Regions from separate parts of the Homo sapiens genome. Here region 2 is linked to region 1. Evidence: fine-mapped expression QTL. A gene starts in region 1. The other region holds a variant in brackets. All regions are shown on one strand. Distances are from middle to middle.

Evidence for each region. PIP is the estimated chance that this variant, and not a neighbour inherited with it, causes the effect.
Region 2: its variant is the best candidate, but not a certain one, in a credible set for the expression of ASB9 in lung (TOPMed, PIP 0.57).

Annotation. Positions count from the first base shown.
Region 1 is chrX:15,267,364-15,272,745 of GRCh38, forward strand. ASB9 (ankyrin repeat and SOCS box containing 9) reads right to left here and starts at 2,720. Exons shown (of 7, transcript NM_001031739.3): 1 at 2,418-2,720. The coding sequence starts at 2,511.
Region 2 is chrX:15,338,853-15,344,234 of GRCh38, forward strand. No RefSeq gene overlaps it. Among named protein-coding and RNA genes, the nearest start is that of PIGA, 6.0 kb to the left of the region's middle. The variant CA/C (reference allele first, on the strand shown) is at 3,162.

The sequences.
Region 1 (5,382 bases):
TGGTGCCACTGCACTCCAGCCTGGTAACAGAGCGAGACTCCATCTAAAAAAAAAATATATATATATATATAATTATATATATAATTCCTTGTAAAAAGTGGCCGGGCGTGGTGGCTCACGCCTGTAATCCCAGCACTTTGGGAGGCCAAGGCGGGCGGATCACGAGGTCAGGAGATTGAGACCATCCTGGCTAACATGGTGAAACCCCGTCTCTACTAAAAATACAAAAATCAGCTGGGTGTGGTGGCGGACGCCTGTAATCCCAGCTACTCAGGAGGCTGAGGCAGGAAAGTCGCTTGAACACGGGAAGGTGGAGTTTGCAGTGAGCTGAGATTGCTCCACTGCATTCCAGCCTGGGTGACAGAGTGAAACTCCACTTCAAAAAAAACAAAAAAAAAAAAAAAAAAAGAAATTCTTTGTGAAAAGTGATTTTTGATGCCACTCTTGCTTTCCTAGTTCTCCAAACTCATGCTCAATACATCTGCTGATTAATCCAGTTCTGCCTTTGTGGATCTAAATCCCACTCACCATTGAGTACTCTGCTCATTTTATAAGTGAAATTGGATAAATGAATGAATGAATGAGCAGGCTAGTCTACTCAGTCAAAGGGAAGACGTTTTGTGTTTTATTTCTTCCATTTTTACCTTTTTGGTACCTGTATAGTAGATTAATAAACCCTGACTGACGGCCGGGCGTGGTGGCTCACACCTGTAATCCCAGCACTTTGGGAGGCCCAGGCGGGCAGATCACCTGAGGTCAGGAGTTCTAGACCAGCCTGGCCAACGTGGTGAAACCCCGTCTCTACTAAAAATACAAAAATTAGCCGGGTGTGGTGGCGGGCGCTTATAATCCCAGCTACTCGGGAGGCTGAGGCAGGAGAATCTCTTGAACCCGGGAGGCAGAGGTTGCAGTGAGCGGAGATCTCGCCATTGCACTCCAGCCCAGGCGACAGAATGAGACTCCGTCTCAAAAAAACAAAACAAAACAAAACACCCTGACTTCAGGGTCCCTGTTTATTGCCCCTTTGATCAACAGGTGCTGTGGACAGTATACCAGGTATATATTTTTTTCTTTTTTCTTTGATACGGAGTCTCACTCTGTCGCCAGGCTGGAGTGCTGTGGCGAGATCTAGGTGCACTGCAACCTCCGCCTCCCGGGTTCAAGTGATTCTCCTGCCTCAGCCTCCCGAGTAGCTGGGATTACAGGCACGTGCCATCACACCCAGCTAATTTTTGTATTTTAGGTAGCGACGGAATTTCATCATGTTGGCCAGGATGGTATCCTGACATCGTGATCTGCCCGCCTCGGCCTCCGAAAGTACTGGGATTACAGGCGTAAACCACCGTGCCCCGCCTATATATACAGGCCTGAACCCGGGAGGCGGAGGTTGCAGTGAGTCGAGATCGCGCCACTGCACTCCAGCCTGGGCCACAGAGCAAGACTCCGTCTCAAAAAGAAAAAAAAATTAATAAATAATAAATACAGCAATTCAGCAGGGCTGCTGCAACACCAGCTTTCCCAGCTCTGGGTGCTGGGGCTTGTCTCCGTCACAAGCCCCCAAGGATCTCAACAGGGTGAACAACAGTTGCAGAAAGTGAGCTGTTGCCTTCACCCTCACCCTGCTGCTCCCTTTGCTCTCCGAAAGTTACGAACTTTGAGTTTCCTTCCCGATAAACTCCAAGGTTTCCTCACTGATTGGTCTCAGTTTGGGAAAGGACGTGACATCAGCAAGTTTGCAGACTTGGGGCTGGAGAGTTAACCAGTATATTACTAACCAATATACTATTATTTATAAGAACCTGTGTGCAAATGCCTAAACCCATTTTTCAGAATCCTTTCAGCCAACAGGCACCTGCTGAATGCTCACCGAAGTGTGTATTTGTGGGATTCTGTACATTAGCACAGACACCACTTGACAGATGAGAACAATACCTGTAAGATGATTCTCCAATGTTTTAAGTAAAACAAAGTCTCTTTTGTCTCTTTTGAAAGTGACTCAATCAGTGCTCAATGTTTGAACATCTTTATAAACCCTGCCCCACCTAAATGCCAAACACCTAAGACTTACAAATTAAAAAGTTTTAGCATTAAAAATTTTCCTATTTATAAGTAACTTTCAAACCTCCAATTTAATAAATAATGCATTTGACCCACAAAGAATGATTCCTGGGAGCTGAAATTTTCACTGGAGAATAATTTGTGACAATTGAATTTGTCTTGTCTGTAGGATTCTGCAGAAAGAAGTATACACATTTTTGAACAGCTGTGTAAAGAATATATACCAGTGAGCTGTGGACATCTGCCCAGTAACAGCCCCATGGACACCTCACACAGAGCCACTGAAACTGCCCAACCCTCCTCTCCTAAGCACATTAGCCAACCTCCCCAGGGCTGATTCCACTGCCCCTATGACTCACCGCCCATCAATGGGTTTGAAAGAAGCCTGATGCCAGGAAAGTCCCTTGGCCCCGCGGGCTTGCTCCCATCCATGCCCCCTTGTTTGCCATCCATGATGCTCTCTCCTAAGCGAGCAAGCTCTGCGCTCCACTTCAGTTGCTCAGCAAAGTCCAAACTCCATGCTCCCCCTGCTCCTGAAAAATTCCAGTTCTGTGGCTGGCTGAGCTGCACACGTTCTGGTCAAATGGTCTGCAGCAAAGCACAGAGCAGGCAGGGTAATCTGAGTGCTACCTGTGATCAGAGAGAGGCATGCGCTCGTGTACACACACACACACACACACACACACACACGTTTTACCTAACTGGCTGGAGGCCCGCCAGAGGCCACAAGAACCCTCCAGCCCTAAGTCTGCGAAGTTGCTGATGTCACGTCCTTTCCCAAACTGAGACCAATCAGTGAGGAAGCCTTGGAGTTTATCAGGAAGGAAACTCAGTTTGTAACTTTTGAGAGTGAAGGGAGCAGGGTGGGGGTGAAGGAAACAGCTCACTTTCTGCAACTGTTGTTCACCCTGCTGAGATCCGTTTGTTACATGGTAGCTTGTTATGGAGACAAGCCCGAGCACCCAGAGCTGAGAAAGCTGGTTTTGCAGCAGCCCTGCTGAATTGCTTGCACAGTAACATGCACAGCACGCCCTGGCCATCTGTACATGTGCTTTCAATTGTGCTGGGAGTTTCTTATGGGAAATGTGTCTATATGTTACAAAAAATGTACCTTTGGAAAGAACCATTTGTTCCTTTCAGCTGCAAGAATTTCACTAAATGTCCTACCTCACCCCTCCTCCACTCATTTTAACTTCTAAATAAATAATGAACGGTTGCAATTGGAAAAATGGATTGCTAGGTGGCCTGAGATGTGGAAGAGACCTGCTATCTTTTCATTGTGAATTACTAAAATTTATTTTGTTAACGTTTTGCTGTTTTTGCTTATACAAAACATTAGGGGCCGGGCGCGGTGGCTCATGCCTGTAATCCCGGCACTTTGGGAGGCCAAGGCGGGCGGATCACGAGGTCAGGAGTTTGAGACCAGCCTGACTAACATAGTGAAACCCCGTCTCTACTAAAAATACAAAAAAATTAGCTGGGCCTGGTGGCAGGCGCCTGTAATCCCAGCTACTCGGGATGCTGAGGCAGGAGAATCGCTTGAACCCAGGAGGCAGAGGTTGCAGTGAGCCGAGATCATGCCACTGCACTCTAGCCCAGGCGACAGTGCGAGACTCCACCTCAAAAAAAAAAAAATTTGGATGTACTGTGTCCATGTCTTTTCAGATAAACCCAGTTGCCTCACACCCCTGGGTGCTACTTCAGGCTGACAGGCACCTCTAGACTCCCACCATTCCTCTCTTCCAGGTAGAAGAGGATTTTTCATCCCCATGGGGGAAGGCTCTGAGTTAAGTCTCAAGCATAGACTGGCTGTGAAGTGATTGCAGATTTGTCTTAATGCCAAAGATGAGGCCTAGATGTTTTAGATTTACGGAGTCTCAGTTAAAACATTTGGTGGCTGTTATTAACAGTTTGAGGGGTGTAATTCACGTTTTTAAAGGCATTTATATGCATACACATGTATGCACATTTATCAATTTACATTTTCCACATAAATGTACCTATATTATTCTTTTTTTTTTGAGACAGGGTCTCACTTTGTCACCTGGACTCGAGTGCCATGGTGTCATATCGGCTCACTGCAACTTTCACCTCCTGAGCTCAAGCAATTCTCCTGCCTCAGCCTCCTGAGTACCTGGGATTACAGGAGCGCACCACTGTGCCCAGCTAATTTTAGTATTTTTAGTAGAAACAGGGTTTCACCATGTTGGCCAGGCTGGCCTCAAACTCCTGATCTCACGTGATCCCCCTTCCTTGGCCTCCCAAAGTGCTAGGATTACAGGCGTGAGCCACCGCACCCGGCCCCTATATTATTCTATTATTCTATGCTTTTTACACTTATTTTGTCTGTGAGAGCTTTCCATATCAGCTTTTATAGGTATGCTCCTGTCTTTATTCACTGTTGCATAGCATTCCATATTGTGCCAGAAGTATTTAATTATGCTCCTAATGATGCAAGCAGAATGTCATTATTTCTGTTAGTACTATGAAAGGACTAAAGTTCATATTTTTGTACATGTGGCTTTGTGCACATAGGCAAATATTTCTAGAGGAGAGATTCCTAAGAGTGGAAATGCTAAGTCAAAGGCATACTTATGCACATGTAATAAATTGTATAAAACTGAAGACACACACAGGAATGAGTACAAGTAAAACCGGGGAATTGAATAAGATCAGTAGATTGTATGAATGTTGATTTCCCAGTTACAATATTGTACTATAGTTTTGCAAAAAGTCACCATTGAGGGAAACTGGGCAAAGTGCACTGGAGATCTCTATGTGATTTCTTACAACTGCATGTGAATCTGTAATGATCTCAATACAAATTGCACTTTTTGAAAAGAGGCTGCTCATTTAAAATTTGGATAAACACTACTAAACTTCCCTCTATCTCTATTTGCAGAATTAACTGAGAAGGCCATAAGCATACAAATTCTTTACCACTCCATCAGGAAAGATCTGAAGAATGATACATTTGTTTGGCAGAGAGTGAGGAATTGATTCCCAACACAGACTGGATGAGGAGTTGAACAGAAGGGCACAATGGGGAAACTGGATACTATTTCCTTTCCTTCCCAGTAAAATCTTTGTACTACAGCTTCTTTATTTACTTTTAATTAAATTCCAAGTAGATAAGCCTTTTCCATATTCAAAATTAAGTTCCAAAATGACAATAAAGAAGATTTCCAGGTTGTTTCCCTAGTACCTGGGAGGGAATTAATTCATCAGCCTTTAATCTTCTCATTTTATTTATGATGTTGATCAACACCAGTGAATAGGAGGATTGGAGATGAATTTTTAAACTGTTTAACAACAGTTCTTTAC
Region 2 (5,382 bases), 71 kb after region 1:
TTGTTGGAACCTTTCCTCTTGAAAGCCAATGACCATGCTGTGAAGCTCAGACAAGATATTGGATAATGGCAAGCCACATGGAGAGAAGCCCTGAAGAATGAGAGGTCATCTTGGGCATTCCAGCAGTAAGTGAGTTCCCAATTTAATATAACCACTGGAGTGACTTCAGCCTATACTATGTGGAAAGAACCACTTAGCTGATCCTAACTAACCCACAGAATTATGAGAAATAATAAATCGTTATTGTCTCAAAACATTAAGTTTTTGGGTGATTTGTTACATAGCAATAGATAACCAAGCCTTATTGCTTAACCATCTCCCCTACTTGTGAATAGACATTGAAAGAATTTTTTGCCAACAGTCTGAGGATATAACTTTGCTAACAGAACTGAGCCAAGCAACATAATTTGCAATTTTCCACTATCACTGCTAGTCTGGGGGATATAAGCACACACACACACACACACACACACACACACACATACACACACACACACACGGGGAGAGGAGAGAGTGAGAGTGAGAGCGAGAGAGAGAGAGCTCTCAAGATTGGTTTATAAACCAAAATTCAAAAACAATGGAAGATATATAATATTAAGAAAGACAACACACAAATGTAACAATGGAAGAAGAATTCACTCTAGACGCAATTCAAATAATTTTTGAAATGACATTTTTAAAAGAATAAGAATTTGGAAATAAAAACATGCAGAAATTAAACAAACACCAGTGGATATAAAAGAATCAATTAGATACCTTGAACATGAAGATGTTACTAGCATTTTTAAAACTCATATTGATAAGCTTTAGGCTACACACTGTTGAAACAAAGGTTAGTGTGGTGGAAAAGAGTAACTAAGGCAGTTACTTCTTTTTGATGCAGAATATGAGATGAAATGTCAAACCACAATCAAAGCTTTGTCCTAGGAAAATTGTTCCAAGAACTGGAGAAAAGGAAGGTGAAAGAGTGGCACAGCTGGAGAAGAGACCAGTTAGGCTGTTCCAGTAGTCCAGAAGCCTCCTTGCAATTTAAAGTAGGGGCTGCAGATCAGCAACAGCAACTGGGAGCTGGTCAGAAGTGCAGACTCTCAGATTCTCCAGACCTGCTAAATCTGAATCTGCAATTTAACAAGATCTGGAATGATAGTATGCACATTATAGCTTAAGAAACTAGCTCTAGACTAGAGGCAATGAGGACCTGATGTTTTCTCGTGGCAATAAAAAAAAAGAGAGAGACAAGGAAAATCACAGGATATTGGGATTTGTTTGAGTGATGTCTTCCTTTTCGTTTTAGCACCCTTTTTTGAAGACCGTCCTCCAGTAGCCTCCTAAAGAAGACTGCATGGGAGATCGGGAGATTTTCTAAGAACTTTAATGTCTGAAAATTTATTTTTCAGCCCTCCAATTTTATTGATAGTTTGGGTGCCAAATAGTAGGCCAGAAATTATTTTCCTTCAGAAGTTTAGCAGCATTGCTCTAGCCTGCTAGCTTTTGGTGTTGCTATTGAGAAAACTAATTTCATTCGGATTCCTGGCCCTTTGTTTGAAGTTATCATAATTTTTCTTTACTCTGGAAACTTATACATTATCTCTTAGTCTCCCGTGTCCTGAAATTTCATCATTTTGTGCCTTGGTATAGGCATAGTTTCACCTTTTGGACTAGGGACTCAGAGAGCCTTTTCACTTGCCAACTCATGTGCTTCGAAATTCTCTTGAATTTTTAAATTGTTGATTACATCTCCTATTGTGTCTCTTCTCATTTCCTGTAACTTCAGTTATTCTGATGTTAGACCTTCTTATCTTTTCACTTTTAATTTCTTATTTATTCTACTTCATAGGAAATTTCTTCAACTCTGTCTTCCTTTTTTGTTCTATTGAATTTTCAATTTATTATAATAGTTTTAGTTTCCTAGGGCTCAATTATGTCCTCTGACATTTTCTTTTTTAATAACACCTTCATTTTATTTATTAGTTGCACTGTCTCACCTTCTTCCCTCATCCCCTGGCTATTAATGATTTGAAGTTTTCTTCTGTTTCCTCCAAATTGCCTTTTTCTGTGTGTTTTACTCTCTGTCTTTCATGTTAGAAATTTTCCCTGGAGGTCTGGGAATTCATGCTTGCTTGCTCATACTTAAAAGAAAGGGACAAAGGAGCTGATCTGAGGTCTGAGCCCAGGAATGGGGCTTGATGACCTCTTTGGGCTGTTCCATTTGATAGTCCCTCCCCCAGCTAATTTCAGTCCTTTTTAGGTCTTTTCTCTTAGGCTGGTAAGATTCCCCCTAGAGAAATACTTTTCCAGTACAGATCCAACTGCCTGAATTGTGGTTGCACCTAGTATGTACGCGTTCACTTAATCCTCTTGTTAGTTCAGCACCCTGCCCTCATGGATGTCAGGCATCCCCCATTCAGGATGCTCTCTCTTTTACCTTAGCCAAACGACTAATAACCCATCTTTTGCCTGGGGTTGGAAGGAGCAGTCACTCCACCACAGGGAATGTGGGAGAAGATTTGGGATCAAACTGTTTCTTATACAGATTTTTGGAATGAACCTCATTTTAGCACCCCTCTCATCCCTCCCATTTCTAGAGGTGCTTGGGACACCCACTTCTGAGCCTTTTGGGAACTCATCTTTCCAGACTGTTGGCTTAAATTATTTTTTTTTTCAGGTCGGCCACATCATTTACAACTTATCTACGTGCTTTTCAGCTTTCAGAACATTGTTGTTTCTGTTGACTTTATCATTTACCCTGTCCTTGCGGGCTTATGCTTTAAAAAAAAAAAAAAAATCCTGGTCCGGGTGCGGTGGCTCACGCCTGTAATCCCAGCACTTTGGGAGGCCGAGGCGGGTGGATCACAAGGTCAGGAGATCGAGACCATCCTGGCTAACATAGTGAAACTCCGTTTCTACTAAAAAATACAAAAATTAGCTAGGCATGGTGGCGGGTGCCTGTAGCCTGTAATCTCAGCTACTCAGGAGGCTGAGGCAGCAGAATCACTTGAACTTGGGAGGCAGAGGTTGCAGTGAGCCAAGATTGTGCCACTGCACTCCAGCCTGGGTGACAGAGTGAGACTCTGTCTCAAAAAAAAAAAAAAAAATCCCCTTACTCTTTAGGAGTATTTACTTTACCCAGGGCATTGGAAAAAAGAGAAAAAACAAACAAA[CA/C]AAAAAAAAACTAATATGTTTATGCACTATCTCTATTTAGAGTCCACGCCATCAACACTAACATTTTAGAGCTATACCACAAACATAACTAGAACCCATCAATAAATGTATCCATGACTTTATTTGAATTGTGGAAACCTGAAATTTAAATCACTGTAACTTTTTAGCTTCATTGGGTTGCACACTACACAATGACTCAAATAAGGTGAGGCCAGTTGATTCCAACAATCGATCAAGGCCAGGTAAAAGTGCCATTTCTTATAGGGGTTCAAGAAGCAGTCTAATTCATTATATTTAATGTTCATTGATGACGTGATAAAATAAGAAATATTTTTACACAAGCGGTTGGCTAACTTTTTCTGTAATGGACCAAAGAGTAAATATTTTAGGCATTGCAAGCCAAACAGTCTCTGTCCCCAACTACTCAACTCTGCTGTTGTAGAATAAAAGTAGCCATAGACAATACATCAACAAATGAGCATAACTGTGTTCCAATAAAGCAGTATTTACCAAAACAACAGGCAGTGAGCTGAAAGTGGCCTATGGGCCATAGCTTACTGACCACTGTTTCAGAACAATATCAGTGATAAAATTACCAAAGGCAGACTTTCTTTCATGAAGCCATTAATAAGGGTCAAATAACAGAATTTTTTTGCTCCTTTTCATTTCATAAATATTTTGAGAATAGATTAAATTCCTTTCTAGAGTTGCAACATCTGAATAATTCAGACATGCATATAATTTAGCTGAGTTTGAAAAACATGAGCTATGTAAAATTACTCTTCACTTTTTAAAGAGATAATTTCATTGGCTGGCCACAAAATCAATGTAATAACTTATTATTTATTAAATATTTATTGAGTACCTAATATATGCAAGACATTGTTCTCACACTGAGGATTAAGACTAAATTAGGCAAAGTCCAGCTCTTGCTGACCAAATCTATTAAGCTCACAATTTTCACTGAACTATGGCTTTTCTTAAGGGCATTAAAACGTAATGTTTGTATAATTTCCTTTATCAAGTCTCTCAGACAGTATTTTAATCTTCATTCAACTCTGATCATCATGCTGCCTAATCTGTTTCCATCTCTAAAGGGCCTCCTGCCACACTGTTTTAGTCATAGATTTATGACGTGTGCTGTCACATTAATAATTCTCTGGCCCTGTGGCGTAATCAGGGACATCATGCATTGCTGGCATTTATTGTGTTTGCTTAAAGCTCTTGGAGTTTCTCACATACTTTTATTTTGCAACAAGTTGAGGATTTTCAACTCACGTTCCAGGGCTGTTAGTATGACAAATATTCCTGTGCAATGTCTAGTGAACTCTAAGAAAGCAACAGGCCAGTTACCCCACCTCCGCCCTCAAGGACCAGACCCATCCTGACCCAGCGTCAGGGATCCAAGTGCAGATCTTGATGGTAATTGGGAATTAAGGAGGAAGAAGAGGGAGGGGTTTTAGAAGCACAAAGCCAGATCACATTGAGTTTTGGCTTAGCTTAGAATTCCCTATGATAATCTCCATCTAAATGGCAATTATGAAGCCAGAGGCATTTCGAGCCAAAACATGGTTTGAGTTGGTTTTAGGACAGATCCAAGGATCCAGTATAAGCCAAGAACATCTCAGAGGTCCCAAGCTTCTGAGATTTGCTCAGTCTTGCTTTTTTCCTTCAGAATAATTCCTTTGAGCTATAAGGTACATTGTATTGTTCAATTTTTTTTTTTCACTAATCGTAACTCTAATGAAATTATCAATTCTGAGATTTAGGGAAATGAGATTATCATTTACATTTGACAGATGAGAAAACTGAGGCTCGATGACATTGTTCAGGCTTACAATGTGTTTAGGTGGCAGAGTCTGTCCTTAAATTCAGGTCTTTTCTCCTTAGTGATACATCCCCTCTTTTTACCAGTCGAGGATAAGCAAAGTAACTCCTTTAATTGTGTGGTATCCTTGAATTGTCTTCTGCCCCAGATCTCAAAGGAATTTAAGCAAATATCATGGAGAAGTTGGGAGTGGTAGAAACTGAACGAAAAGGCAAAGCAAAGAGTCGAATGCCAAGTATGTTTTAAAAAACTAAGTTATGTGCAAGCATTTTCAGAAGCCTGATTAAAAATACAGTAAAATGAGAAGGAAGAAGCCTGTTGACATCAAGGTCATAAAGTGAGGGCAAAAAGAACAGTGGCAAAAGAGGAGTGACTGGGTTGGCACCAGTAAA